6 linked regions of the Homo sapiens genome follow. The protein of the gene in region 6 purifies or fractionates together with the protein of the main gene of each other region. This does not show direct contact. Each region holds a gene or a part of one and is shown on either strand. Other genes may lie near its edges.

Evidence for each region.
Region 1: the proteins of NECAB2 (region 6) and DCAF10 purify together in Homo sapiens (affinity purification with mass spectrometry; 2 studies listed by BioGRID and IntAct, with this or other methods). This does not show direct contact.
Region 2: the proteins of NECAB2 (region 6) and GRM5 purify together in Homo sapiens (co-immunoprecipitation; one study listed by IntAct). This does not show direct contact.
Region 3: the proteins of NECAB2 (region 6) and GOLGA4 purify together in Homo sapiens (affinity purification with mass spectrometry; one large-scale study listed by BioGRID and IntAct). This does not show direct contact.
Region 4: the proteins of NECAB2 (region 6) and ACBD5 purify together in Homo sapiens (affinity purification with mass spectrometry; 2 studies listed by BioGRID and IntAct, with this or other methods). This does not show direct contact.
Region 5: the proteins of NECAB2 (region 6) and ZYG11B purify together in Homo sapiens (affinity purification with mass spectrometry; 2 studies listed by BioGRID and IntAct, with this or other methods). This does not show direct contact.

The regions. Positions count from the first base shown.
Region 1 is NC_000009.12:37,803,584-37,807,481, reverse strand, and holds part of DCAF10 (DDB1- and CUL4-associated factor 10), read right to left. Parts: intron 1-3,898. UniProt on the Homo sapiens protein: May function as a substrate receptor for CUL4-DDB1 E3 ubiquitin-protein ligase complex.
Region 2 is NC_000011.10:89,054,858-89,060,479, reverse strand, and holds part of GRM5 (metabotropic glutamate receptor 5 isoform a precursor), read left to right. Parts: intron 1-5,622. UniProt on the Homo sapiens protein: G-protein coupled receptor for glutamate. Ligand binding causes a conformation change that triggers signaling via guanine nucleotide-binding proteins (G proteins) and modulates the activity of down-stream effectors.
Region 3 is NC_000003.12:37,322,318-37,327,014, reverse strand, and holds part of GOLGA4 (golgin subfamily A member 4), read right to left. Parts: intron 3,428-4,697; coding exon 1-3,427. UniProt on the Homo sapiens protein: Involved in vesicular trafficking at the Golgi apparatus level. May play a role in delivery of transport vesicles containing GPI-linked proteins from the trans-Golgi network through its interaction with MACF1. Involved in endosome-to-Golgi trafficking.
Region 4 is NC_000010.11:27,212,221-27,217,842, forward strand, and holds part of ACBD5 (acyl-CoA-binding domain-containing protein 5), read right to left. Parts: intron 3,422-5,622; coding exon 3,315-3,421; intron 1-3,314. UniProt on the Homo sapiens protein: Acyl-CoA binding protein which acts as the peroxisome receptor for pexophagy but is dispensable for aggrephagy and nonselective autophagy. Binds medium- and long-chain acyl-CoA esters.
Region 5 is NC_000001.11:52,819,652-52,825,273, forward strand, and holds part of ZYG11B (protein zyg-11 homolog B), read left to right. Parts: intron 1-1,787; coding exon 1,788-1,978; 3' UTR 1,979-5,622. UniProt on the Homo sapiens protein: Serves as substrate adapter subunit in the E3 ubiquitin ligase complex ZYG11B-CUL2-Elongin BC. Acts to target substrates bearing N-terminal degrons for proteasomal degradation with the first four residues of substrates being the key recognition elements.
Region 6 is NC_000016.10:83,994,752-84,000,373, reverse strand, and holds part of NECAB2 (N-terminal EF-hand calcium-binding protein 2), read right to left. Parts: intron 3,159-5,622; coding exon 3,105-3,158; intron 2,170-3,104; coding exon 2,057-2,169; intron 1-2,056. UniProt on the Homo sapiens protein: May act as a signaling scaffold protein that senses intracellular calcium.

The sequences.
Region 1 (3,898 bases), on a different chromosome or scaffold from region 6:
TTGTAGCCATAATCTTTTATTTGACACAGATGCCCTTGTCTGAACCATGAATTGACATAGGAAACTAGATAAAGCCCTTCTAAGAATGTCCACATTAAATTTATAGTCATTAAATAACTTGTAGTCATGATACGTTAAAAAAAATCACACTTTTTAAAATTTTTTGTAGAGACAAGGTCTCCCTATGTTGCCCCAGCTGGTCTTGAACTCGAGCTCAAGCAATCCTCCACCTTCAGCCTCCCAAAGTGCTAGGATTATAGGCATGAGCTGCCATACCTGGCCTAAAAAAAAGAAATCACTCTTAACATCAACAGAATTGTTCATGGGAGCTGAATCCTCTTTTTGGCTTTTGCTGAAGTAACAGTAAGTATATTTTAAAATGTTTTTAGCCCTTCAAATGCTTGCTGTTAGTTTCATATAGTCAATATTTGTTTAAATATATTAATAACTAAGTCACAAAAATAATTTATTGATATACTTAATTATATTAAACCTAATCCCTCAGTCCAGGTGAGAGGTAACGTAACACAGCAGTTAACAGCATACACCAAGGTACAGAACCTTCATTTAATAAACTTTCTGCTTCTTAATTCCCCCAACTAAATGTGTCTGGTAGACAGAAAAAGATGTATTTTGGTAGTCATTTTCATTTATAACATGAGTGTCATTAATGCCTACTGTAGGCAGGTATTCATTGGGTGTTGGCACACTTATCCTATCTAAATAATGGGGAAATTAAACAAGAATGATAAAACTAAGGATGTGCATCCCAGAAGTTATTCATCCATAAACCATCCCCACAGGCCTCGATCATCTGCTGTAGATTCTATCCTGCCATGGGAATGTATACTGTGCCAAGAGAATTAATATATTTTGATGGCAACTGCGGTAGTACAGTACTATTACTCTCATTTGACTGCTCTTCTTTCTGGATCTCCCGGGGCTGTAGTTCCCAAAGGGGCCATGTGAGAGTGATATGAGAAAGGTAGGCAGCCCTACTCTTAGGGAAGCCAGATGGTCACTGGGCCTATGGATTTTTTTGTGTGTTGGAGGTTGCCAGGCACGGGTGAGGAGTAATTAGAATGGCTGCTGCCCTGTAGTTCTCCAGTGAGATGTTTGCTGACAGTCTCTTGCTGTCCTAGTTCTTAACTCTTTAGTTGCTATATAATTGGTTACTATAGGAAGTCCCAAGGAAGGCGATGAAGCATTAAGATGACACTTAACAGGCTTGGGACAGTAACTGTTCAACCACTATGGACATATCAATATTTTAACAACTAGTATAGCTGAACCAGTATCAGCTGAATAGCAGGCCTGAATGTAGTCTACGAATGCCATTAAGAGTAAGATTTTAAGAGGTACTGTTCTTTTATTTATTTTTTAATTTTATTTTATTTTTTGCAAGACAGGGTCTCTGTTGCCCAGGCTGGAGTGCAGTGGCACAATCCTGGTTCACTGCAGCCTCCACCTTCCGAGCTCAAGTGGTCCTCCTGCCTCAGCCACCTGAGTAGCTGGGACAAAGGGACACGTCACCACAACCAGCTAATTTTTGTACTTTTTGTAGAGACAGGGTCTCCTTATGTTGCCCAGGGTGGTCTCAAACTCCTGGGCTCAAGTGATCCACCTGCCTTGGCTTCCCAAAATGTTGGGATTGTAGGCGTGAGCCACTGCGCCAAGCTACTCTTTGTCTTTTAATTAGAATATTTAGTACCTTATAGTTATTGCAACTAGTAATGTTTGGATTTATTTTCAGCTATTCTTTGTGCTTTTTATTTATTATATCTTGTCTTTTTTTCTTTTCCTTTCTTGCCTTCTTTTGGAATTTTTTTCTCATTCTGTACTTTTTCTTGTACTAGTCTGGAAATTATAATCTTTCTTGTCTTTTGGTTCCTTGAAAATTTTAAATACCTATTAAAGCCCAAAGTTAACATATATTATTATCCCCCCAAATACATAAAAACTTAGAATGTCACTTATCATTTATTTTTATTTTACTTTGAGATGGAGTCTCACTCTGTCACCCAGGCTGGAGTGCAGTGATGTGATCTCCGCTCACTGCAACCTCTGCCTCCCAGGTTCAAGTGATTTTCCTGCCTCAGCCTCCCAAGTAGCTGAGATTACAGGTGTATGCCACCACACCAGGCTAATTTTTTTGTATTTTTAGTAGAGACAGGGTTTCATCAGGTTGGCCAGGCTGGTCTCACACTCCTGACCTCAAGTGATCCGCCCGCCTCGGCCTCCCAAAGTGCTGGGATTACAGGCATAAACCACCACACCCGGCCTCACTTCATAATTTATATGCTATTATTGTCTTCTATTTTTGTTCCATCTCTATTAATCCCAAAAGACATTATCAGATTAACATGTACATACATATTTAACACTTTTTGTTCTTCATTCCTTCTAGCTTCTCAGACCTTCCGTTTGAAAATAATTTCCTTCTCTCTGAACTTAGAATTCCTTTATTGGAGGTCTGCTGGCAAACTTACTCAGCTTTCCTTGTCTGAATATGTATTTATTTCATCTTTGTTCTTGGCAAGGACAAAGAACCTATGTTTGTTGGGTATAAATCTAGACTGAGGGTTTTTTCCTAGCATATTGAAATAATTACCACTGTCTCTATATTTATATTATGGTTGAAGACTAATTGGCTATCACTCTCATAGTTGCTCCTTTGAGGCCTTTTTTCTCTACTTTTTTTTTTTTAAATGGAGTTTTGCTCTTGTTGCCCAGGCTGGAGTGCAGTGGTACGGTCTTGGCTCACCGCAAGCTCTACCTCCCAAGTTCAAGCGATTCTCCTGCCTCAGCCTCCTGAGTAGCTGGGATTACAGGCATGCACCACCACGCTCGGCTAGTTTTGTATTTTTAGTAGAGACAGGGTTTCTCCATGTTGGTCAGGCTGGTCTCGAACTCCCAACCTCAGGTGATCCACCCACCTCAGCCTCCGAAAGTGCTGGGATTACAGGCGTGAGCCACCGTACCCGGCCCCTTTTTCCTCTGTCTTTTAAGATTTTATATTTATTGTCCCACAGTTTCACTACAATATGTCTAGAAAGAATTCTTGCTTGGGTTTGTTGGGCTTCTTAAATCATGGCTTGGTGCCTTTCTTCAATTCTGGAAAGTTCTCAGCTATTATGTCTTCAAATAGTCCCCCTTACACCATATGATATGCTTATATGGTATAAGCGTACCATATAGTTAGCCAGAGTTCCTGAAGAAACTGGGACTATTTTCTTTAGGAACTCTGGCTAACTATATGGTATGCTTTTTCTCTCTATGCTCTGTGTTACTAAATCTCCTTTTCATATTTTCAATCTCTGTGTTTTCCAGGTCTGTATTCTAGTTAGTTTCTTTGCTTCTATTTTCCAATATGTGAATTATCTCTATAGCTGTGCCTAATGTGTTCTCATGGAGGACAGTTTGACAGGGTCTGACATACTATAATTTATTAACATTATCAATTTTACTTTTTCAAAATGTCATTTTAGAAGGTGATACACTTATTTTGACAATGTTTCTATCACTTAAAACATTTTTTGAATTCTTTAGAAAATACCTTCTAACCCATTTATCTTTTTTATTGCCAAATTCCTTATATTGTGGTCTCTATTAAATTCATAATTTTAATTTTTACATTCTGTGTCACCCCCTCCTTCTCTGTATTGAGAAGTCCTTGAGGGTGACAGTGGTTATGCTACCTGGTAAGCTGATTTAACTCATATTTAACTGAAAGATATGAGAAATTACCTCATTTAACACGGATATGTCATCTATCTGTAAAATTACTTTAAGTCCTACACAAATGTAGGGCATACTAGATGAAGTAAGAAGACTGAAAAATTAAAACACTGAAGTATTTTCACTCATCACCCTGATAAACATGAAAAAGAATGGCAGT
Region 2 (5,622 bases), on a different chromosome or scaffold from region 6:
ACTACGTTTTTTATTCTACTGTCAAAGAACAGTGCATAGTTTATGCAGTGTTCACTGTGGGTCACTTTATTTTTATTTGTGCAATTAATTCATTATACTTATTCAATAACATGTACTGCCATAACCCATCCCCCATTTTCAAAATAAGGAAACATATATTTCATTCATATATATGTGTGTGTGTGTGTGTGTGTATATATATATATATATATACCATTTACCATATATGTAAAAGGCAAAAATAATGGAAATATATATACATACATACGCAAAAGAGAGAGATTTGATTTGTTTGGCACTAAAATTTACCGTGTTTCCTTTGTTTTGAGCTGCTTTACTCTGTGGTGTGGCTAAACAATAAACATTATGGGATTATTTTACTGTGGTTTCCAGTGAGTTGTAGTATGTTGGAAGTACAGGCTCTGGCTTCAAATTGCCTGGGTTTGAATCTCAGCTTTGTGGCTTACTACTTGTGTGACCTTAGGCAAGTTACTTAAATTTATGTACCTTAGTTTCACTATTTTCAAATTGGGGGATGGGTTATAGCAGTACATGGCATGGAGTGAATATGATGAATAAATTGCACAAGTTAGAAAAAAAGCAATAGGTGCAGAAGGAAAACCACCATGGCACACATAGACATATGTAACAAACCTGCACATTCTGCACATGTATCCCATTTTTTTTAGAAGACATAAAGAGAAAAATAAATTAAAAAAATAAAGTATCTGACCCATAGTGAACAGAGTGCAAACTATCAATCCTACCCAGGCCTTTGGATGTCGAGTTTTCTGCGTTTCCTATGTTATTACATTTAATGTTCAACTGCCCTATGGATTGTGTCTTATCTTTATTTTATGACTTTAATGATAAAACATAATACTAACATAGATTAAATAACTTGTCCAATGTCCCACAGTACAAACAAAGGTGACAAAGCCGGTATTTAAATCTAGGATCATCTGATTTCCAAACTTTTATGATACTGACCTACAGCTTACAAACATATATCAATTTTTTTGAATTCTACTAATTTTGAGTCAGCATCCCTTCCTCTGCAAAGGAATGTGCAAATATCTACTTTTCTCATATATTCAAGAATATTTTAAAATAAACATGCAAATGCTTGAAGATAATCAGAAATCAAAATAATACGTAATTGCTATCTCAAATATCTCCTTTTTTAGTCAGACTGTAGAAGAAGTGTAAAAGAAAGACTTAGATGCAAAATATATATTTTCTGTATATATTATTCTATTGGTCTTGCAAATATATCAGATTCAAGAAAAATTCTCTAATGATTAGTTGTTCACAATAATGCTGGTTCAGGCCATGGGTTTTAAAATTTTGAGTATAAATGTTCTGAGGAAAATGAAAACTTGTAATCACAGTGATAATAGTGAGCACTTTAATAATGCAACCTTCTTACATTCATTATATTTTACAGAAGAATAATCAAAAATATTTTTTGAAAAACAATTTGTCTAAATGCATAGTAATGTAGAATTATTCAAAGACATAGAAGTAAATAATACACTATTATATCATTTGTTTAAAAATAAATAAAATGAAAAATCAACATGTAAATTAATTTATAAAGTTATCGTTATTGTTGCAGTCTTGTTAAAATTATAATAAACTTTGCATTTCCTATCAAGAACAGCCTTTGAATTCGGGAAGTATATCGTAGGATACTCTCCTCACATTCATTTCTTGTAATTTGTGATACTTAGAACTATGCATATTTAATGTAAGGTAATATCAACCTTGACTCTTAAAGCTTAAATTTGTCTTTCTCAAATTGAAATTTCTACCTTTTCAACAAGATAATACAGACAAATAACTGCATAAACATTGAGTAAGGCAAGCCTATTTCAACCGTCTCTCCTTAGCATTATTTGGAAGTTTCAGGTAGAGAATTTCTAAGACTGATGGGTCCAGATGATTGGCTCTTAGGTATGCTCTTCTTTCATGACTATGTCGATCTTGCCAGGATTAACTTTCATGTAAATTAGTGTTTTTCAACTGGAAGTGACTTTGACATACAGGCGACATTTGCTAATATCTGAGGACGTATTTGTTTATCAGAGCTGGGAGGGGATGGCATTGTCGTCTAGTGAACAGAAGCCAGGGGTGCTGCTAAACAACCAACAGTGCACAGACAACATCCGCCCACAACAAAAGATTATCCACTCCAAAATGTCAATAGTGCTCAGGTTGAGAAACCCTTATCTAAATGATGCTAGGAAACAGAGTTTCCTATATTTACTTGATTTGTTTGTATGCTTTCTGATGAATTTATGTACGTTACATAAGAATTTAATGGAAAGCAGAATCTCCAAAATGCTTTGCAATCAATGCATGAGGTTTGAATAACCAATTCACTTGTTTTTTTTTGTGGGGAGACCTCATTATTTGTTTATTAAGTTTGGGCTTTGGAGCCAAATATAGTTGGATTCATGTCCTGGTTCTGCCATTTATTGTAGGTTTGATACTTTGGAGAAGATTCTTGACCTCTAAACTTCGATTTCTAGAGGTAGTAACATAGGTAGTAATTATACCTACCTTACAGGGTTATTGTGAGTCTTACATTAAATAATTATTATACATTATTTAACAGAAAGAAGGCACTTTATAAATATTATGTATTAATAAGTAAGTGGAGATCATGTTATAGAAATGTAAAACCACGGTCTCAAGCATTTAATGATATGTAATGTAATATATAAATAATGATTTACAGTCTTCAGAGGTATACCCTTAATAACAAGAAATCAGCTGAAGGCTACAGGATGTGTAAAAGTCTAAAATCCCTGCTTTATAATTAAACTGAGACTAGTTAACAGTGGATTGCATCATGTTTATTGCTTTGCTGCAGAAGGCTGTTCCAGGTCTTCATAGACTGCTAAACCACTTGTTTAAATGATTTACAATGATTTAGTGAGCTCTATTGAACTGCCAGAACTTTTTAATTAATGGATAAAATTACAGATTTCATCTTTGTACAATAGTGTTTTATGGCCCTTTTTTTGTTGAGGGGGTTTCAGTTAAAATATGGCCTATATTTTGTGGGGCTAAACAGTGGGGATGCTGCATTTTCTTGTTTACAGGGTCACAAATGTGTGATTGAGATAGTAATGACAATGGAGCTTTCCTCAGACTACAGGGTTCTCTGTATCATTGCACCTCAGGCTGTCTCTTATCTGTGGTATGCACTTGTTTTCAGAAAAATATATCAGATGCATTGATGGCATATGCAATATTGACAGCCCTGACTGTTTGTGATGAGGCCACTGATCAGGCAGAAGAAATCATTTTAGTGTTTATGTCCTGAGCTGTGTGATTTGCTTGTGTGGAGATTAAGTTATATAAGAGACATCTGTGCCAGAAAGATGGTCAGTATTTTAGAAGATTGTTGAAAATAAAGGACAATGTGAGCTGTGAATCTGATTATATAGTGTAGATTGCAATTTATGGCAAAGTTTATCCATCAATATCTCTTTTTCATATCATTTAGGATATAATATGAGAGTGTGTGGTTACCTGATGTGAAATACTTTTGTATGTATTTAAAATATGTCTATTGTTTTCTATAATGTGCTAGTAATTAATTTACTCTGCTAAGGACCCACAAATATAACACTGAGTAAAGCATACTTCTGAAAATAGGTACTTGAACTAATATACTATATAATCAAACTATTAATACATTTACCCACTTTTTAGTGAATTAAATGTCACCATATTATTAGACTGTAGATCATAACATTTTAAAAGCTTTTTTATCATTACAAGAATTAATGCCTCCCCATTATCTACAGGATAAACCTGCCCCTTTATTTCTACTGACATATTATCCCCACCATCTAAAAGCTATAACCTAAAGAAAATAATTTATTTTACTTGAGAATTTGTTTCCTACTATAAGAAATTGGTGTTCTTAGACATTTCTAGAAGTATTATTTTTAGGTAGATGTGAGATCAAGAATGAAAAAAGGCTCTTTACGCTGAAAATAAAGTATTGTGGTATTTTTCTTCATCTTTTCTTTTACTAGACACTTGTTAAAATAATGAATGAATCTTGTGGTGACGTTGCACAGGAGAAATCTCACCACAAGGAGAAATGGCCTTACTCAGGAACTTATATAGAAGCAAGAGAGAGTAGATCCTCACAGAAAGAATATTGGATAGTTCTCAGAATTGATGATGTTAATGAGACAGATCTTGGAGTGAAGTTGATATCATCTTTTATATTCTACATTCATCAGTTGTAAACCAGGAGAAACATTTATGCCAGAAATATCATCTTTAAATAATTGTGCTACAAAGATACTTTCAAAAGCAAGCAAAATGCAACATTGTTTATGATATTAAGACAAATCTATAAATAACCTTAATATCTAACAATAAGGAATAATTAAATATTGGTACACACATATAATTGAATGCCATGCAACTGATAAAATTAAATAAATGTTCTAAATGTGACTCTTGGCTCTGGTACTACCCACTTGCTTGGGAATCTGGGCCAAGCCTCTGTATCTCTCTGAGCCTCAGTTCTTTTCTCTGTAAAATGTGCATACATAACTTATTTTACAGTTTGTATGACAACTAAATGTCATTTCATGTGAGATACTTAGCAAAGTGAACAACACATGATATGCCCTCTGTATATTTTAATTGTTGTTATAATTGTCCCCATCATCCAAATGAACTTATATGAAAGATATTTATATTATACAAAGAAAATAAAAATATATTATGAGAGAGATTTCATATTAAAATTTTATTTAAATAAAAAATAAAATATTATAAGCTTTGAAAATTATATAAGAGCTGATACCAAGTTGTAAACTATGATTAAAATTGTGTTTTGAGTGACATTTTGTTGAATTCAAGTCCCAGGTCTGCTATGAATCATTTGCTTTCCATGGATCTCAGTTAAATGGAATCATCTCCAGGGCCCTCTCTAGTTTTGTGATGCTATTTTCCTTAAACATCCTACAATATTAGCTTGGTAATGAATACTATAAGAAAGTATAAATAAATTGCCATGTGAGCTTGGAGGATAGAGCAAACACTGCCAGGTGAGGGATATGGTAATAATTTAGGAAGGGACTATTTTTAAATATTAGCTTATTCAATACTCACTAAAACTCTTTGGGGTAGGTACTGCTGTCACTCCAATTGCCAATAAAGGCATGAGGCTCAGAGAGGCTAAATGCCTAAGGACACACCGCCAATAAATGGCTGTGCCAGGATTCCAATTCAGGTCATTGGACTCCAAGCCCATGCTCTTAACAACTCTGCTATGAAGACAATTGGAACAACTGCATATCAGGGATCAGAAGCAGCATGTGCAAAGCCATTGGAATAAAACAGTGTATACTTGGACAAGAGCCTAACTTGACTAATAGGCTCCCAAGGAGGAATGGATGGAAGGAGATAAGGTCTCAAGGGAGAAAGTTGCAGAAATTTAGAAAGCATATCCCTCAGTTCCAAATTAAAAATACTAATGATTAGCAAATATGTTGTATTACTATATTTATAAATTTAGAAAACACAGATGAAGAAAATAAAATTAAAAGTACTATATTTTTACTACCCAGAGAACACTCTATT
Region 3 (4,697 bases), on a different chromosome or scaffold from region 6:
TGGGTACAATTAATGTTTCTGACTGTGAACTTTCCACTGACTTAAGTTTTTCTTCCAAGATGTGAACTTCCCTTTCTCTTTCCTGCAATTTTGTATTTAGCTCACTCAAATGGCTTTCTGTACCTTTTTTATACTGTTCTTCTTTCTCTTCCATTTGAGATAACAACTGCTTCTTAATGGCAGCAATTTTTTGTTCAGCTTTTCTCTTCAACTCTGCTAATTTTGCAGCACTTTCTGACTCAAGCCTATCTTCCAATGCCTTTAACTCCTCCTCTTTGCTTTTCACACTTAAATTCACATGTTCTAATTCTTTCTTCTTAGTTTCAAGTTCAGCTTTCATGGAATAAACTTGGTTTTCAAGTGTTAAGATTTTTTCTTCAGCTTCTTTAACCCTGTTGTCCTTTTCTTCTCCTAACTCTTGAAAATGTTGAAGTTTCTGAACCAATTCTTTGTGTTCAATATCCTTTTGTTGATTGTAATTTTTAAGAACTTCATTTAAGGACTCTATTTCAATAGTTTTCTGGGTAATATGGTCCTCTAATTCCATAATTCTTGCTGTTTGAGACTTTAACTCTGTTTCTAAATTAGACTCCTTTTTCTCCATCTTGCTCTTGTCGTCTTCCATTTCACCCTTTAAACAATCAAATCTTTTATTTTGCTGATCAAGCTCTTCCTTCAATAAATTTATCTGCTCATCCTTTTCATAAGCTTCCTTTGATTTTAACTCAAGCTGGATCTGCAATTCTTTAACAGTGTTTTGATGCTGTGTAAATCTTGACTGTGCTTTCTTCTTCCATTCTGAGAATTTATTGGACCAGTCATCTACCTGCTCAAGAGCAGAAATTTTCTCTTTACTCAGAGTGTCAACTTTAAAAGATAAATCTTGCACCTGATCCAGCAATTCACATTTTTCTTCATCATACTGCTTTCTTAGTGATGAAATGGCTGCTTCTTTTTCGGATAGGCTGATGCTATTTTGAAGCTGAACATTCAAATCAGTTAGTTGTTTACTAAGACTGCTAATCTCAACTTTTTTTTCTTTAAGCTCTTCTTTCATCAATGTGACAGCATTGATGTTTTCAGATAACTCTTTCTTCAACTGTGTTATACAAGACTCCTTTTCAGAAGCAGCCTGTTGCTGATTGCCTCCTTCCTTCTGTAAGGCTTCTTTTTCTGTTACAAGACTTTCAATATCAGCCTTCATGCTCTTAATTTGATTTTCTTTTTCTTCTAACTGATGAGTAGCCTGTTGAAAAGAAATATTTAGTGTATTTTGCTCCTCTGTCAACTGTCTAAGTTGTGCTTCTAATTCAGAAACTGTGCAAGTTTTAATTAACAGTGCCTCCTTAACTTTAGTTGTACGGTGCTGACAATGAGAAATCCTAGAAAGAATGGCATTAGTTTTACTACTACTAATGTTGATTAGCTCATTTGTTTTAGCTTCTAATAAGGCTTCGGTTTTCTTACAGCAAATATCTAGCTGAATCGCTAGTTCCTCAGACAGTTTTTTAAATTCCAAGCTCTTGTCCTCTAGGCTTTTGTTACTTTTTTCATGTGAAGATTTCAAACTCTGGAATTCTTCATCTGTGGTTTTCAACTTGCTAGTCAACTCAGAAACCTTCCGCTTATCTTCTTCTGCCAGCATCTTCAGTTCAACTAGCTGCTCTTGAAGAAAAGTATTTTCCTTCAGAGACTTATTCAAGTCAACCTCTAGCTTTTCAAGATGAGCTTTCAGTTTAGTTTCATCTTGTGCAAGAGAATTCACATGGGCAGACTTCTGCTTTAACTGTTCCTGTAATTCATTTAATGTTGTATCCTGCTTAACACCTTCTTCCTTCAGCCATGTTATTTCCTTGTTCATCTCTTCTTTTTCACACCCAAATAGGAGGATCTTTTGTTTCAGTTCTGCTACCTCTTGTTCTTTTTCCTGTAATTGGATTTCATGTATTTCCTGAAGTTCTTCAGCTTGCTGATTAAGTTTCTTTTCCCAGATTGATATGACATCATTGAGTTCTCGTCGATGAACCTCAGTAAGACTTTCTATTTGTTCTTTTTGGTTTGTTTCCAGTCTTGACACTGCATCACTGATTCCAGCTGAGTTAGCCTGTGCCATTTCCAGCATTTTGGCATTAAACTGTTTTTCTTTCTGACTAAGCTCTAGAGCAGTATTTTCAAGCTCTTTCTTAAGTTTGGCTTCCTGATCCAGTAATTTTTTCTTTAACGTTTCTTGCATCTCCTTTGCTTTCTGCTTAACTTTTTCCATCTTTTTTTCTTGGTTTTTAAATTTGGTTTCATATTCCTCATTCAAAATATGAATACTGTCCTCCTTGGCTGACAATTTCTGTGTGAGTATCTCAATTTCTTTCTTCTGTCCTTCTCTCATTTGTAAAATCATATTTTCCTTTTCCACCAAGATTTGCTTTGTCTGTTCCTGTTCTTTGTTACCATCTTCAAGTTTGGACTCATAGACTTGGGTTAAAGATTTTACTTTTTGCTCCATTTCACTATTTTGTTTTTCAAGTTGCTGCATTAAGTCCTGCACCTGGATTTTGTGAGCATCTAACTCAGTACAAACATCTTTCTTTTGTGCTTCAACTTCAGCAACCTGTTTGGTAAGAAGAATTCTTTCTGTTTCCAAATCCAACAACTTCTGCTGCAATTGGGCCAACTGTTCCTCATATGCTTTTGTCTGCTCATGTGTGGCACTCTGGTAAGACTGAAAAACGTCCAGCTTAGCAGATGCCTGCTGGAGTTCCCCTTCAGACCTTTTAATATCTGCCTCTAAATTTTCTACATGAGCCTGATGCTCTTTCAAATGCTTGTCCCTTTCCTTCAAGAGAAGCTCAAGTTGATTAATTTGATCTTTTAATGCCTTCTCAGTCCTCTGGATAGATACCTCGTGTTCTTTAATGATACTGTCAACTTGCTGCTGGTGATGATTTTTCTGTTCATCCATCTTGGCCTCTAATTCCTGCTTCATTTTATCTGTTTGATCTTTCAGAACAGAAAGTTCCTCTTCTAGTTTGTGACGGGCTTTTAATACTTCTGACAGTTCAGAAGATAATGATTCTAGTTCTGTTTGCTTCACATCAAGCTTTTCTAAAGTCTTTTCATTCATTTCTTCTATGTGGGCCTGGAAGATAATCTCTTTGTCTTTCAACAATGTTTCTTTTTCTTGTTCACACTTTTCCCTAAGTTTTTCCATTTCAGTCTGATATTGTTGCTTTAAGACTTGGAGTTTTTCAGTCCAAAGGGCATCCTGCTGATGCTTAAGGCTTTCCAATTCTGTCTTGTGTTTTTCAACCATGACTGTAATCTCCTTATTGTGCTTATTTTTTTCAGCTTCCAGATGAACAGCCAAATCTTTTGACTGATTTTTGTTTTCTTGTAAGCTTTTTTCCAAAGAACTTTCCAATTCAAGAATTCTCTGTTAATTAAAAACAGATGCATTTTTATTAAAGTACGTACTTGTCTACTAACAATGATACACAGACATGATGTCTACCACCTACCTGAAGATCAAAATTATCATACCAAACACTAGAAAAGACAAAGAATCTATGCTCAATTACTAAAGGAATCATATAACAAAGAAAAGATTATGGCAAGGCACAGTCCAACAGTTTGGGAGGCCGAGGTGAGCAGATCACTTGAAGCCGGGAGTTTGAGACCCAGCCTGACCAACATGGCAAAGCCCTGTCTCTACCAAAACATACAAAAATTAGCCGGGCATGGTAGCATGCGGCTGTAGTCCCAGCTACTCGGGAGGCTGAGGTTGGGGAATCCCTTGAACCCAGGAGGCAGAGGCTGCAGTGAGCCGAGATCATGCCACTACACTCCAGCCTGGGCAACAAAGCGAGACTCCTCTGTCTTGGAAAAAAAAAAAAAAAAAAAAAAAGACAAAAGGAAAGAAAAGATTACATGTTTAACCCAACTCATACTTTCAGATTCTTTCTATTTACTTGGGGAACCTTTTCAGCTACCTACATTTTCAATAATACTTTAACTGGATAGTAAAAAGAAATAAACCATAAAATTCATAACAGTAACTTCTGGTAGGAAGATTGGGGTTTTTTCCAATTTTTAAGGCCTACATAGTATTTTATTATTCTCATAATTTTAGAAGAAAAAGAATGTATGATTTTTCCACCTTCAAAATTATCATTTGGAAGGTTCTTTTTTTTTTCATAAAGAAGGAACTTATATGAATTTTAACAAAGATTATTATTATCTCATGAAAATGTAATTTTGACTCTGAAGGAGTTAAATAAGGCAGAGCCACAGAATGTCAGAGCTGGAAAGGTCCTAGGGTCCTAAGGAATTACTGAATCTAATCTCTTCATGTGACAGGTGACGAAATTAAAGTACAATTAATTTAAAAATCTAACAAGTGGAAGATCTAGGCCTCCTAAGTGTCCATTTCACCCACCATGGAACCTTTTGCAAGTGTTAGTGATGGAAAAATTAAGCATGGTTTAGAACTATGAGTAAGAAGTATGACTGTTTTACTATCTAAATCAGAGCAAAAAAGCTAACAAGTCTAAACATCAGTTAGTTTTCAAAATAGGTTGTACATTTCAAATACTGCTAAGGAAAGGATCAGACAGGGCCTTTAAAAAAACGTACACTCTGGGACATACACACAAATATGTTCATTACGGGACTATGTTTAGTATGGAAAAACTGGGGAAACCAAA
Region 4 (5,622 bases), on a different chromosome or scaffold from region 6:
TGCCTGTAGTCCCAGCTACTTGGAAGGCTGAGGCACAAGAATCACTTGAACCCAGGAGGTGGAGGTTGCAGTGAGCCCAGATTGTGCCACTGCACTCCAGAAGCCAGGTCAGACAGCCCCTTGAGCTTTAGTCCATCAACTGATTGAGAGAGAAAACAGGAACAAAACTAGAATGTAGCAGCTGGATATTTACTGAGATTAATCTCTATCTGGTCCCTTTCATCAACCTTCCCCAAATATCTCTTTTTTAAAAAGAAAAAAATAAAAGGGAATCTGAGTTTTTCATCCTTTTCATTTTTCACTAATTTCACTCATTCTCAGTTTGGCCTCCTTATCATTATTCTTCCAATTTATGCTGCTTTTTTTTTTTTTTTTTGAGACAAGTTCTGGCTTTATAGCCCAGGCTGGAGTGCAGTGGTGCGATCTTGGCTCATTGCAACCACTGCCTCCCAGGCTCAAGCCATCCTCCCTGAGTAGCTACCATGCCTGGCTAAGTTTTTTATTTTTTTGTAGAGACGGGGTTTTGCCATGTTGCTCACGCGGCTCTGAAACTTGTGAGCTCAAGTGATCCACCTGCCTCGGCCTCCCACAGTGTTGGGATTATAGGTGTCAGCCACCATGACCAGCCTACGCCACTCCATTTGTGTTTGACCTTAAGTAAAAGATATTTTATTCATGTGTTTTTAAAATTTGAGAAAAGGGGTAGATTTAATTGCATTATGAAATGAGAAAAGGAGAAAAACACAAAAAGTTAAAATCATTTCAGGGAGGCAAAAGATAAATGATTTTCTATAAGACACACTGAACTGTATTAGAACAGGGTAGGTAGGTAGGAAACAGAATGGGGAGAGGATATAAAGAGGCCAAACAGAAATATAGCTGTCAAAACCACCTTTGTCAGATTAATAAGTAGAATACATAAGGAGCGTAAACAACTCAATAGGAAAAAAATCTAATAACCTGATTAAAACTGGGCAAAAGATCTGAATAGACATTTCTCAAAAGACCTACAAATGGCCAACAGGTATATGAAAAGGTGCTCAACATCACTGATCATCAGCGAAATGCAAATCAAAACTACAATGAGATATTACCTCGCCCCAGTTAAAATGGCTTTTATCCCAAAGACAAGCAATAACAAATGCTGGCAAGGATGTGAAGAAAAGGAAGCCCCTGTACATTGTCGGTGAGAATGTAAAATTAGTACAGCCACTGGGGAGAACAGTATGGAAGTTTCTTAAAAAACAAACAAACAAGCCGGGCGTGGTGGCTCACGCCTGAAATCCCAGCACTTTGGGAGGCCAAGGCAGGCAGATTACCTGAGGTCAGGAGTTCGAGACCAGCCTGACCAACATGGAGAAACCCCGTCTCTACTGAAAGTACAAAATTAGCGGGGCATGGTGGCGCATGTCTGTAATCCCAGCTACTCGGGAGGCTGAAGCAGGAGAATCACTTGAACCCAGGAGGCGGAGGTTGCAGTGAGCCAAGATCATCCCATTGCACTCTAGCCTGGGCAACAAGAGGGAAACTCCGCCTCAGAAAAAAAAAAAAGTACCAAAAATAGAGTTACCATATGACCAGCAATTCCACTGCTGGCTGTATACCCAAAAGAAAGGAAATCAATATATTGAAGAGATATCAGCACTCCCATGTTTATTGCAGCACTATTCACAATAGCCAAGATTTGGAAGCAACCTAAGTGTCCATGAACAGACGAATGGATAAAGAAAATGTGGTACATATACACGACAGAGTACTATTCTACCATAAAAAAGAATGAGATCCTGTCATTTGCAATATGGATGGAATTGGAAGATATTATGTTTAGTGAAATAAGCCAGGCATAGAAAGAAAAACTTCAAATGGTCTCACTTATTTGTGAGAGCTAAAAATTAAAACAATTAAACTCATGGAGATAGAGATACAATGAATAAGATCTAGTACCTGATAGCACAGCAGAGTGGCTATAGTCGGCAATACTTTGTTGTACATTTTAGAATAACTGAGGGAGTACAATTGGAATGTTTGGAACACAAAGAAATGATGACTGTCTGAAATAATGGATACTCCATTTACCCTGATGTGATTATTACACATCATATGCCTGCACCAAAATATCTCATATACCCCATAAATATATATTTATTATATTTTTTATATTTTACAAAAATAAAGTGGAGATGGGGGTCTCGCCTTCTTGCCCAGGCTGGTCTCAAACTCCTGGTTTCAAGCGAAGTTCCTGCCTCAGCCTCCTGGGATTACAGGTGTGAGCCACTGAGCCCAGTCTAACCCATGAATATATATACCTATGTGCCCATTAAAATTAAAAATTAAAAAATTAAAAATTAAAATACTGCTATCATCATTATCAGAAAAAGTTGAGAAAAAGGATTCATGGATGTCCTATAATTTGTTTTTCAAGTTTTCTCTCCCAATACTGGATCTTAATTAACTGAAATTTAAAAATTATTTCCACTAAAAATTTCAATCCAGTGAATTACAGTCAATGTGGAGAACAGACTTATTTGTTTGAAAATTATTCAGGCCAGCCTTGGTGGCTCACACCTGTAATCCCGGCATTTTGGGAGGCTGAGGTGGGAGCACTGATTGAGGCCAAGAGTTTGAGACCAGCCTAGGCAACATATCAAGAACCCATTTTTAGGTTGGGCACAATGCCTCACGTCCATAATCCCAGCACTTTGAGAGGCTGAGGTGGGCAGATCACTTGAGGTCAGGAGTTTGAAACCAACCTGGCCAACATGGTGAAACTCTGTCTCTACTGAAAATACAAAAATTAGCCAGGTGTGGTGGCACATGCCTGTAATCCCAGCTACTTGGGAGGCTGAGGCAGGAGAATTGCTTGAACCTAGGAGGCGGAGGTTGCAGTGACCCGAGATTGCGCCACTGCACTCCAGCCTGGGTGACAGACAGAGACCCCATCTCTAAAAAACAAAAAAAACAACAAAGAAGATCATTCAATTTTCCTGAACATTAATAAATGTTTCAAACATTGGGACTAGCATAAAAAGTGTTTTCTCTGCATCCCCATCCCACGTCTCCTAGAATATTTATAAATATATGTATATTATTAGTTATAATGGAGTAGTTAATATTATTAATTTTTCTTTGACTTTTCCAGAATTTTACCTATTTTTGAATTCATAAAAAATAGTTTAAAATACAAATGTTTAAACATTTTAGGAGTATCTTTTCAAAATGAAAAATAGCATGTATATTTGCTACTAACAGAAGTTACGCATTGAATTCTAATACACCACTTTGAAAATACACCAATCAGAAAATGTCATTTTTACCTCTTCTTGTCCAAATTGTTCCATAGAATCACAGTAAACTTCACTGTCTGAATCGCTTGTCAAATGCTGAATTCCTGTAACATCTTCAACATGATCATCATTTATATCTAAATATGAACAAAAGTGCAGATAGGGTAATTATACTATAGTAGAAGAAAAACAAATTTATTCCTTTGTTTTTTTGAGATGGAGTCTTGCTCTGTTGCCCAGGCTGGAGTGCAGTGGTGTGATCTCGGCTCACTGCAACTTCTACCTCTCGGGTTCAAGTGATTCTCCTGCCTCAGCCTCCCAAGTAGCTGGGATTACAGGTGCCCACCACCATGCCCAGCTAATTTTTGTTTCATTTGGTTTTGTTTTGAGACGGAGTTTTGCTCTTGTGGCCCAGGCTGGAGTGCAGTGGTGCGATCTCGGCTCACAGCAACCTCCGCCTCCCGGATTCAAGTGATTCTCCCGCCTCAGCCTCCCGAGTAGCTGGGATTACAGGTATGGGCCAACACACCTGGCTAATTTTGCATTTTTAGTAGAGACAGGGTTTCTCCATATTGGTGCGGCTGGTCTCAAACTCCTGAGCTCAGATGATCCACCCACCTTGGCCTCCCAAAATACTGTTTATTTTTGGTTTTTGAGATGGAGTCTCGTTCTGTGGCCCAGGCTGGAGTGCAGTGGTGTGATCTCGGCTCACTGCAACCTCTGCCTCCTGGGTTCAAGTGATTCTCCTGCCTCAGTCTCCAAGTAGCTGGGATTACAGGTGCACACCACCAAGCCCAGCTAATTTTTTGTATATTTACTTGAGATGGGGTTTCACCATGTTGGCCAGGCTGGTCTCGAACTTCTGACCTCAGGTGATCCGCCTGCCTTAGCCTCCCAAAGTGCTGGGATTACAGGCATGAATCACCGCACTCAGCCAACTTTTGTATTTTTAGTAGAGACGGAGTTTCACATTGTTGGTCAGGCTGGTCTCGAACTCCTGACCTCAGGTGATCCACCCGCCTCGGCCTCCCAAAGTGCGGGGATTACGGGCGTGAGCCACTGTGCCTGACCTTTGTTCCATTTTCAAAATTCATCAGCCTTATATTATTTTTATACTGAGAGACGAATTTGATTTATCAAGCCACACTTTTTAAAATTTACCAAAACTTTAAATTTAGTTGATAATTTTTATTTGAAAAGATTACAAAATATTTTATCATTGAATTCCATAAAGACAGCCTAGATGAAATCTTATAAAACCTAATAACCCTGTAAGAGAAAACTACCTACCAAGCAGGATGCCTAAATGTAAGATCCAACTAGGCAAGTTTGGTTCTTACATTACGAAATGATGTTTCTTGGCCGGGCACTGTGGCTCACGCCTGTAATCTCAGCACTTTGGGAGGCAGAGGAGGGCAGATCACAAGGTCAGGAGATCGAGACCATCCTGGCTAACACGGTGAAACCCCGTCTCACTAAAAAATACAAAAAATTAGCTGGGCATGGTGGCGGGCACCTGTAGTCCCAGCTACTCGGGAGGCTGAGGCAGGAGAATGGCGTGAAACCAGGAGGCGGAGCTTGCAGTGAGCTGAGATCGCATCACTGCACTCCACCCTGGGCGACAGAGCGAGACTCTGTCTCAAAAAAAAAAAAAAAAAAGATGTTTCTCGGCCGGGCGCGTTGCCTCACACCTGTAATTCCAGCACTTTGGGAGGCCAAGGCGGGTGGATCACTTAAGGTCAGGAGTTTGAGACCACCCTGGCCAACATGGTGAAACCCCGTCTCTACTAAAAATACAAAAATTAGCTGGGCATGGTGGCACGTGCCTGTTATCCCAGCTACTGGGGAGGCTGAGGCAGGAGAATTGTTTGAACCCAGGGGGCAGAGGTTGCAGTGAGCCGAGATTGCGCCACTGCACTCCAGCCTGGGTGACAGAGCGAGACACCATCTCAAAAAAAAAAAAAAGAGAAAAGAAAAAGAAATGATGTTTCTCACATGTACTATTATGTATCCCTAAAAATTAAAAAATAAGCCAGTGCATGGCTCAAACCTGTAATCCTAGCACTTTGGGAGGCCAAGGCAGGCAGATCACTTGAACCCAGGAATTCCAGACCAGCCTGGGCTACCTGGCAAAACCCTGTCTCTACAAAAAATTTAAACATTAACTGGGCATGATGGTACATGCCTGTAATCCCAGCTACTTAGGAGGCTGAGGCAGAATTGCCCAGGAGTTCAAGGCTGCAGTGAGCCATGACTATGCCACTGCACTCCAGCCTGGGCAACAGAAAGAGATACATATATAACCTTGGCCCTAATTCACTCTTTTTCAAAACTATAA
Region 5 (5,622 bases), on a different chromosome or scaffold from region 6:
TGGCACACATCTGTACTCTCAGCTACTAGGGAGGCTGAGGCAGGAAAATCACTTGAACTGGGAGGTGGAGGTTACAGTGAGCCGAGATCGCACCACTGCACTTCAGCCTGGGCGACAGAGTGAGACTCTGTCTGAAAAAAAAATAATAATAATAATAATAATAGTGCATTTTCATATGAGTATTTATTTTTGTCACTACTTTTAGGTATTAGAGTTATTTAGGTTTTACTCTATGGAATGACAGCCCTGAATAATTTATTTTATTTTATTTTATTTTTTTTTTGAGACGGAGTCTTGCTGTCGTCCAGGCTAGAGTGCAGTGGCATGATCTCGGCTCACTGCAAGCTCCGCCTCCCACTTCACGCCATTCTCCTGCCTCAGCCTTCCAAGTAGCTGGGACTATAGGCGCCTGCCACCACGCCTGGCTAATTTTTTTGTATTTTTAGTAGAGACGGGGTTTCACCACGTTAGCCAGGATGGTCTCGATCTCCTGACCTCGTTATCTGCTCGCCTCGGCCTCCCAAACTGCTGGGATTACAGGTGTGAGCCACCACGCCCAGCCCCTGAATAATTTATTCTAAAATGCACTGTAATTTGGGGAATATTAGAATATTTTGTCTCCAACTCAGATAGTTTAGGTTCCTACCTTGTGGGCTTATTTTGTTTATATTTAAATGGAATTCACTTCTATTTGTATTAAAATGTTTTAATGTGGCTGGGTGTGGTGGCTCACACCTGTAACCCCAGCACTTTGGGAGGCTGAGGCAGGCAGATCACTTAAGGTCAGGAGTTTGAGACTGGACTGGCCAGCGTGGTAAAACCCCACCTCTACCAAAAATACAAAAATTTAGCCAGGTGTGGTGGCTGGTGCCTATAGTCCCAGCTACCCAGGAGACTGAGGAAGGAGAATTGCTTGAACCCGGGAGGCAGAGGTTGCAGTGAGCCAAAATTGTGCCATTGGACTCCAGCCTGGGCAACACAGCAAGCTGCAGTGAGCCATGATCACACCACTGGGCATGAGCCATGATCACCCCAGCCTGGGCAACAGAATGAGACTGTCTTTAAAAAAAAAAAAAAAAAAAAAAAGGCTAATAAAATATTTCAAAAATTTAAAAATTGTATGTGCAGTATGAGTGCCATTAAGTTTTTAAAAAGCATAGTAAATGCAGCCTGGCATTATGGCTCATGCCTGTAATTCTAGTACTTTGGGAGGCTGAGGCGGGAGGATTGCTTGAGGGCAGGAGTTTGAGACCAGCCTAGGCAACATGGTAAAACCCCATCTCTACTAAAAATAAAAAAATTAGCCAGGGGTGGTGGCATGTGCCTGTATTTCCAGGCTGAGGCACAAGAATCGCTTGAACCCAGGAGGCGGAGGCTGCAGTGAGTCGAGATTGCGCCACTGTACTCTGGCCTGGGCAACAGGGCAAGACTCTGTCTAAAAAAAAAAAAAAAGCATAGGAAATGCATAAAAATATAACAACACTTACCTGTGATTTTGGGTCAAAGATAAGGTAGTTATGATTGTTTTTATTTTTTTAATACAGGTTGTACATGTCTTGAGGTTAGAAAAATCAAGCTAGCTATTTATTGATTGAATGTGTAGGCCTTGCACTGTAGACGTAACATCAGTATAGAGGTTATTTATCAAGCTGTAGCATGTTAGTGATCAATAACAAAACAGCTAAAAAAAAATGGCTCCTAGAAGTCATTTTTTTGTGGAATAATTTTCAAGTGTTTTAAGAAAAGCTATTTCTCCTGTTTTGTGTGTGTTTTTTTTTCTTTTTCAGCTTCAAGGTATTGCAGCATGCTGATTGAAGAAGGAGGATTGCAGCATTTATACAACATCAAAGATCATGAACATACTGATCCCCATGTCCAACAGATTGCTGTGGCCATTCTGGATAGCTTAGAAAAACACATTGTGCGCCATGGGAGGCCACCTCCCTGTAAAAAACAGCCCCAAGCCAGACTAAATTGATAGCCATAAGTATTGGATAGTTGAATCACAGGAATCCTTTTTGTGATTGGTCCATTTGGAATATCTTACCCTCCCTGATGTTTTGGGGGTTTCTATGACAAGAGTCATAAAATCAGTTTGGGATTGATAATGTGTAGTACTGCCCATGTGAACAGTCTCTAATTTGTCTTGTGATTTTAAACTTATGAGTCAAGAAGGGTCTCTTCCTTTATCATTGCCTTTTAGGAAATTTTCCACATCTTTCAGTGTTTGAACTTACTTGTGCTTGAGATTCTACAGTTTTATGGTAAAGTTTGCACGAACCCTTAGGCCAGACTTTTCTGATCTCAGAGTCCCTTCCAATCAATTTGCAGCTTCACATAAGCTGTTGACCTGATTTCTGACACTGCTTCAGTTGTAAATTTTATACTGCTTCTGTATAAAATGCCTTTCTTCTCTATCTGTGTATATTTTATAAGATGTCCTTCTTAGTGTGAAAGAAGGGAAATGTGGATCATCTTGTGGAAGCTAATCACTGGCAGGAGCCTGGATGGCTGGCGGAAAGATATATGAGAAAGAAAAATTATGAAGGTAGAACAGAGTGTAGGAACTGGGAATTGGTTTCATGGTATAGGTTTTAAAATGAGACAGGCTACCCTTCGGGAGTCCACCTCTCTTGAGGCGGTGAGCAGAAGCTTGTCCTCCATATTTATACCTAGAAGTGTGGACTGCTGGTTCCTGCACAGACTGCCGGTTATTCACTAGGAATATTTCCCCAAGCACCACAGTATAAAATACTACAGCACTCTGTGTTAAAGACTAACTGTCTACATCTCCATATGTTGTAGTGTTGTGAAAATGTGATTTTAAAAAATTATCGCCAGTTAAAACTGGCTATTCTTTTCCTCTATTTCAAAGTCATTTTTGTTCAGTGGAATAGAGACAGCAACATGGTGTTAACCTCTCAATTAAAATACAATTGACACCAGTAAATTTTGCCATAAAAAGTTAAAATCTCTTGTTCAAAATATGTGTATCTTCTTAATGTGTTCATGTTAGAGAAAGTGTCCCCATCTCACTGCCAAAAATGAAAGAAAATAATTAAACTCTTTAAATGATTAAATGTAATGATTCTACTCGCAGTGCATAACAGCACATATTTTTGACAGATTATTTTTTAGGCAATTACCTTTCCTTAAGGTATCTGATACAGTATAGTAAAGAATCACTTATATCAGTAATAGCACTTGAGAGATAGCAAGTCACCAAGAAACTTAATTTTCATTTAAAATTTTATTTTGTGAATAAGGTCAATCTACAATCCCAGATAACTACATTTTTTTTCATAGATGGCCAGTGTTTTCAACAGAGATTTAAAATGGAATATTAAAATTATAGTGATTATTCAGAAGCATTTTAATTTAGAAAGGAGCTGGTTTGTTAGTTCACTGATGACATTTTTTGACAAACATTTTATACCATTATCACAATAATCAGACTTGAATTTTTTTTGGAGTTCCTTCATGTGAATGAAAACTGAGTTAAAAGAAAGTAGGCATTTAGGTCTGGATGCAGTGGCTCATGCTTGTAATCCCAGCACTTTGGGAAGCTGAAGCAGGAGGATTGCTTGAGCCCAGAAGTTCAAGACTAGCCTGGGCAACATAGTGAGACTCGGTCTCTACCAAAAAAAAAAATTTTTTTTTTTTAAATTAGCTGGGTGTGGTGGCACCTGGGAAACAGAGCGAGACGCTGACTCAAATAAATATCTAAATAGATATTTAGAATCACTGAAAACCATATTAAATGCTGGGTTAATGCTGACTTAATTGGCTTAAGGAATTTTTATAGGCGTAAGATAAATTTTCACAGACTAAGTTTATTTCAGACAAAATAGAGAATTCTTTTAAAAGTTTTTTTTTTTTTTTTCCTTTTTCGAATGTTAATGTCTAAGACAAAGTTCAGAAAACGAGATGGCCTGTGGTAGTTTGGAAATTGCTAGATATGTTGACCGTTTCCAGGTCTTTTATCTAGTGTAGTTAAGGGAAAGCCTATTTAAGAAGTTTGGCTTCAAGTTTCTGTTTTATAAGACAAAAGTGCATATTTCTTTACAGGCTAATGCTAGGTTTTTGTCTTTACAAATTATTTTCAGAAATGGCTAAAAGTGTACAGAAAACAGTAAATCCCTTCTTTACTCAGAATAACTTCTTAATAGTTGAAGCATCCAAAATATGTAAAAGCAAGGGTGGGCGTAGTGGCTCTTGCCTGTAATCCCAGCATTCTGGGAGGCCGAGGCGGGCAGATCACTTGAGATCAGGAGTTCGAGACCACCCTGGCCAACGTGGTGAAACCCCGTCTCTACTAAAAATACAAAAACTAGCTGGGCATGGTGGCTTTTTTGCACGCCTATAGTCCCAGCTACTCGGGAGGCTGAGGCACGAGAATCACTTGAACCCAGGAAGTGGAGGTTGCAGTGAGCTAAGATCGTGCCACTGCACTCCAGCCTGGACAACGGAGTGAGACTCTGGGGAAAAAAAAAATTAAACTTCCTACTTTTTTTCTTTTTGTAGAGACAGAGTTTCACTCTGTCGCCCAAGCTGGAGTGCAGTGGCACAATCATACCTCACTGCAGCCTCTTGGGCTTATGTGATCTTACCCCCTCAGCCTCTGGAGTAGCTGGAACTACAGGCTAAATTTCCTACTTTGTAAACATCAGTAGTGGCCAGATACTTCTGAGTCTTAAAAGCATAATAGGCCGGGCGCGGTGGCTCACGCCTGTAATCCCAGCACTTTGGGAGGCCGAGGTGGGTGGATCACAAGGTCAGGAGTTCAAGACCAGCCTGGCCCAAATGGTGAAACCCTGTCTCTACTAAATATACAAAAATTAGCTGGGTGTGGTGGCGGGCACCTGTAATCCCAGCTACTCAGGAGGCTGAGGCAGGAGAATCGCTTGAACCTGGGAGGTGGAGGTTGTGGTGAGCCAATATCATGCCACTGCACTCCAGCCTGGGTGACAGAGTAAGACTCCGTCTCAAAAAAAAAAAAAGCATAATAATTTATTACATCCCAAATATATAAAAATTTGAGTGCCTTTGCAGTTGGGATGGTTCCTAAAATTGCGTATAGAATTAAGGCACAGAATTGTGTGTAAGGTCCTGAATCTGGCTAAAATACAGTGGATGTATGTATTGGAATTATGAGGCATAAGTAGCCAGTATCTATAGTTAGAATCTACAAGGCCTCCTTTTTGCACCTGTAGACTAGAATATAACTGTTATTGGTGCCTTTGAGTGTTATCTCTCAGTGGCTAGAGGTGCTGTTTCAAGCACAATTTAGACTAGGGTTGAACCACTCATTGTTCAAATCATTGGTGGGCTCCAATGTAAAATATCACTACATCAGTCCACAAGCAACATTAAGGAAATCTAAAGGAAATGGAATTTGACTTTTTAGAGTATAATGATGTTCTAGGGCATAATGAGGAAAATTTTTAAAAAATAGATTATAATGATACATATTGGTATCATTAAGACAACAGATTTGAGCAAATACAATTAAGGTGTCTTATTTTTTGCATCAAGTAATTATTGCTGTGGTCTTTCTACTCCACAAAATAATTTTTTCTTTTTGCAGTTGAAAATTAACTGCATTATTAACTAATTAATAAA
Region 6 (5,622 bases):
TGTCCCAATAGAGATGGGGTCTTGCTATGTTCCCCATGCTGGTCTTTAACTCCTGGGCTCAGGCTGTCTTCTCACCTTGGCTTCCCAAAGTGCCAGGATTGCAAACTTCAGCCACTGTGCCCAGCTGAAATGTCATGTTAAAGTGTGAACATTTATTTAAACAAAACCAGGTGGCTGGATGTGATGGTTCACGCCTGTAATCGCAGAACTTTGGGAAGTCTTGAGGGGTCGAGGCAGGTGGATTACGTGAGGTCAGGAGTTCAAGACCAGCCTAGCCAACATGGCAAAACACTGTCTCTTTAAAAAAAAAAAAAATAAAACTTGCTGGGCCTGGTGGCACATCCCTGTAATCCCAGCGATGCAGGACACTGAGGCATGAGACTCATTTAAACCCTCTGGTGAGAGGTTGCAGTGAGCTGAGCTTCCACTACTACACACTCACTCCTGCCTGGACAATAAAGCAAGATTTGGTCTCAAAAAACCTTTAAAAATCAAAAAACCTTTAAAAATCAAAGCATCTTCCCTCTTCTTCCTTCTACTTGTCCTCTCATTTAATCCTTGCAACACCCCCACTGCACTGTACCTGACCTGACCAAAGGAGGCTGAGGGGAGGGGGTGCTGGGCCACAGAGGAAGGGGCTGCAGGCAAGTCCCCCATTGCTCTATGGGACCCAGGGGCCCGCACTCACGTCATTTTAAAGGTGCTGATAGTCTATGCCGCCCCAGAATCCTCTCTGCAAGTGCACTACAATGAGGAAGCCCCAAGTGACCATAAAGCGGGGGCCAAAAGCTGGGGAGGAGGGGCTACAGTGCTCAGCCTAGAGGAAGGGGCCGGGCTGGATTCCATCTTGGGGTGGACACACCTCCGTGCAGCTTTAGGTGCACCATGCCTGGGAAGTAGAATCTCACCTGGCTCTCCAGGCTTGCCGTCTCCAACTCGACAAACCAGAGCCTCTACGTCCACCGTGCCTCCTCTCCACAGCGCATCGGGGTGGCCCTACTTCACCCTGGAGCCTCCCACTTATTCACGTAATGGAAAAAGATCAAGTCTGGCCCCTGCTCCTGTGCAGTCTGTCCTCCTGGAGTGGAGTGGGTCCTGCCCCCCCATCCTGGCTACTTACTCAAGAATGGCCCCTCGTGGCCACGCCGAGTCTCGGGAACGGCCGCACTCCTGCCCAGGCTACTCCTCCCCTCGTGCTACAGGTCAGGCTGTTGTCACTCAAGCCTCAGTGCACAGGGGGCCCAAGAAGACCCCTCTCAAAGACCCTGTGCTAGGACCTGGCCTGCCTGGTTCACAGCCATGTCCCCAGGCAATGGGGTGAATGAGTGTGTGCTCTGGGGATGGAAGAAAGCCCTGGGAAGGGAGTTGGGCAGAGCCTTGCTGCAGAAACGGGGGGCGGGGGACCACTACCAGCAAGAACAAAGGGCTGTTGTCTTCTGCAACCCCCTCCACTCTGGCCCTGGCCACATGCCTTAGCTTTACCAAGGAGCTACATCAGCCTGGTGGGATGAACAGGAATTTGAAGGTAAGGCCGCTTGCCCCGCCCTGGACATCTCAGCACATCAGGGGGAGAAGGGCAACTACATGACTTGGGCATTTCCCTTCAGCTACCGACTCTCCTCTCCTTCCTCAGTGGTTAACTGAGCAAATACTACATTCTGGGCCTGGACTTAAGTGTGCAGGAACCCCTGTGACAGCAGCAGCTGAGGCTGACTGAGCGCACGGGGCACACCAGGCCCAGCTGGAGCCCTTCACACTTGAGATTCACACACTTGATTGTATATGCACTCATGATCACCCCAGCAAGGAGTCCTGGGGGTGGTCCCCCCTTTACAGATGAGTAAGCTGATGCCAGGGAGATGAAGACACCTGCCACATTTGCTTGGCTGGGAGGAACCTCAGTAGAGACCTGAACCCACTTCTTACGCATCCAGCTGTGTGTGTCCCTGGGGTGCAACTTGTACTACTTAGGGCAAAGCCTAGTCCTGCCCTGTTCCTCCACTGCCAGGCAGAGCTCCCTGCCACCATCCCACCCACGCCTCGGCAGCTCACTCACTGGAAGCAGTTCCTCACGCCAGTGGTCCCCCGCAGATACTGGCGCAGAGAGTCCAGAAACTCGCTCAGTTGCTCGGGGCACACGGCCATCTCCTGCCGGACCAGCTGCAGGTGCTGCCGGGCACAGCAGGAGTCAGTGTGGGGCTCCACGTCAGGCCTTCTCCCTAAACACCCCATCAGGCCCCCATGACCTCCCTTCCTCGGTCAAAATAAAATAACCCTCCCCCACTTTTCATTCTTACCCATGAATGGATAAGAATGGACTAAAAATGGGCTAAGAAAGGACTAGAACCTCAAGAGCCCAGTGCAGAAGTAGCCCCCAAAAATGGGGAAAACAGACGAGGTTGTTTACAGAGGCCCCATCCATGTCCACAACCACCTGCACAGCCTCCAGGGCCTGGAGACACAGCACATCCACTGACAAGAAAAACTCATAGTTGATGGACTCAGCATTTTCACATCACTGTCTGGCTGATCACTTTGCTCTATGCCAAACCTTTTTTGGATCAAAGTCCAGGAGCCTCTGGGCCAGGTGTGGTGGCTCACGCCTGTAATCTCAGCACTTTAGGAGGCCAAGGTGGGCAGATCATGAGGATAGGAGTTTGAGACCAGCCTGACCAACATGGTGAAACCCTGTCCGTCTCTACTAAAAATACCAAAAAAATTAGCCAGGCGTGGTGGCACACACCTGTAATCCCAGCTACTCAGGAGGCTGAGGCAGGAGAATTGCTTGAACCCAGGAGGCAGAGGTTGCAGTAAGCCGACATCCCACCACTGCACTCCAGCCTGGGAGATACAGCAAGACTCCATCTCAAAAAAAAAAAAAAAAAAAAAAAAAAGGTCCAGGGAGCCTCAAGAAATACCCCCGGAGTTGGTGGGGTGGCTCCTGTGCCAGGGCAGGGTCTGGGTGCCAAGCGCTGGGCGACATCTCCCCTCCTGGTGGTCCCAAGCAGGGAGAGCGGGGTCAGGGGCATTGAGCCACTTGGATCTTGGCAGTCCTGGCATGGGTAGGGATGTGGTCCCAGAAGAGAGGTGGGAAGGGGCCTCACCATGTTGGTGCCATCTTCATCTGACAGGCGCTGCTGCAGGTCGAACCACAGTGCCTGAAACAATCCAGCACACAGTGATGCTAGACCCAGAGCCCCACTCCGCCCCGGGGAGCCAGGAGCTCTGGGATCCCTGGGGCTGTTGGGAGCTCCCAAGGACCCGGCCCTGTTGCACAGGGCTGGGAGACCAACGCTAGGAAGTGGCAGAGACTCCCTCTGGCCTACAGGGGGCCTAGAACATGTTGCTGGGGTGAGGATGGCTTGGGAGAGGCAGCAAGGGGGACTCCAGAGGCCTGAGTCCAAGATGCTGGGGTTTGCCACTATGATGAGCAACAGCCCTTAGATTCCCTGTAACTTATAATTCACCCCAAATCATAACCCCCAGCACCTCAGGGATCTAATGGGGTGAACTGTTCTCTCTGGTCTTCCCCAGACTCTAAGCTAGATGGTTTACAAATACACAATCTTCCAGACTCCCCAGGGAAGGTGCTGCCCCACTGTAAGTTTCGGTCTCCAGGAACCACATCTGCTCTGTTCGCCCACGACTGGTGCCCACACAGGGCTGAGCCCCCACAGAAGATCAACAGTCACTATGTCACGGCAGAGAACCCCGGCTCTGAAGGCACGAAAGCCATGTAAGTGTCAGAGCGTGGGTCTGAACCCAGTGTGTCTACCTGACGCACAGGCTCATGCTGCTGCTTCCTTCAGCTTGGGCACCCCACTAACCACCTCTGTGGCTATCTCTGTCCATCCTCCATGAGGACAGACCATCTACGGGAGTCACACAGGGCAGCCACAGGTAAAGCACGCCAGCTAATAAGGAAAACAGCAGCAGGTGGATGAGTCTGTGTAGTCACCACCGTGACGTTCTAAATGTTTGAGCAAGGGACCTTGCACGCTCATTTTGCACTGGGCTCTGTAGTAGCTGATCCTGGCAAGGGTACTGCCTTCTGGGGGCACACAGCATGAACACGCCTTGGTAAGTGGTGAAGGTGTGCCTGGCAGGAACAAGTCTGTTTCCATGGTTTTACAAGCATACGTGAGGGGTCCTGGGGCTGGAAAAGCCATAGGAGGATGAGGAGAGGCACTGTGGCCCCTGTATCTGCCCCATTCTTCTCCCAGCCAGGGGCCCCTAGAGCCTCCATCCTTCCAGCCCAGAGGCAGCTCCGGTTGGCCGGTGAAGGGCGGGGCCTGAAGCCAGGCCCGGATTGGCCCCTGCTGACCGCCCGGGCCAGTTAGAGGCTGGGGAGGAGGACCTGGTCCCACCCCGTCTCCAGGACGCCCAGGTACTCCGTGGTTACCAGCCAGCCTGGTTGTTAGGGCGACGGTGCTCTAAAAATAAGCTTCAGAGTCTCCCTCCCGAGGCGCCCGCTGAGTTGTTATGACAACCGGGCCACGGGGTCCCCTCCGAGCCGCTCCCGCAGCTGGCTTCAGGAAGGGGGTAACTCCACCTCAGCCTCATCCCTGCAGGAGGGGAAGTTTGAGCTTCCTCCCTCGGACTTCATTCCACGTCAGCCTCTGTCTCCCTCCATGCGGGGAGCCCCTTGTTCCTGCCCCCATGAATGCCTGAGAACCCCCAAACTAAAAGTAGCAATACCCTTTACAAAGGGTGTAAAAAAAATACACAAAAGTAGGAGAAACATAAAACCACCTCAATCCCAGGGTTCTGAGAGCTCAGTTACCTTGGCTTATGTGGGTATACGGGTGTGCTGTGTGCATGTGGATAGGTTTGGGTAACAGAATGCCTCATAATAATTGCTAACATTGCTAATATTAAATGCAAGCTACAGCACCGGGCCCTGTGCTAAACCGGAGACATCATTTTGGTTCATCCTAACGACACCCCTATGAGGGAGGGGTCCCATGCTCCAGGTTATTTTCTTGATTATCAGAGGAGGAATCTAAGCCTCAGAGAGGACAAGTCCCTGGCCCAGGGTCACACAGCTATGAAGTGGCACAACCAGAATTCTGACTGATACCTGAGCCCATCTGTCTGTAGGCCCTAAGACAAACTTTTCTTTCCACCAAATGGTCATATTGTGAGCACTCTATCCCGAGTCACGAAACATTATCTGAAAATGTTTTCTGTAAGGGCTGTGCCATTTTCTATCACCTGTGGACGTCCCATATCACACTTAATACATTTGCTACTGCTGGTCACTTCCTTCCTTGTTTTGAAACTCTCTCGAATCATCACGTCTCTCTTTCATCCTGGTGCTGCCTTTCGGCCAATATCTGCTCCAGCCACTTCAGAGCAAAGTCTCCTTGAAGCTAGGGCCTTGCAACACGGGACCCTGCTGACCACCCTCTGCTCCTGGAGCTGCTCCTGCTGCCTGCAGGCCCGCCTGACCCCCCAACACTCTCTCTTCCCAGGCGCCCCTCCTTGGGCCTGAACAACACGAGCATCCCCCGGGGTTTGATCCTTAGCTTCGTCCTCGGCAGCTCCACGCCCCACCTGGGGGATGTCTTTTTCATGGTTCCCTGGCCCCTCTGCAGCCCAGACTTTTGTCCTGAACTCCAG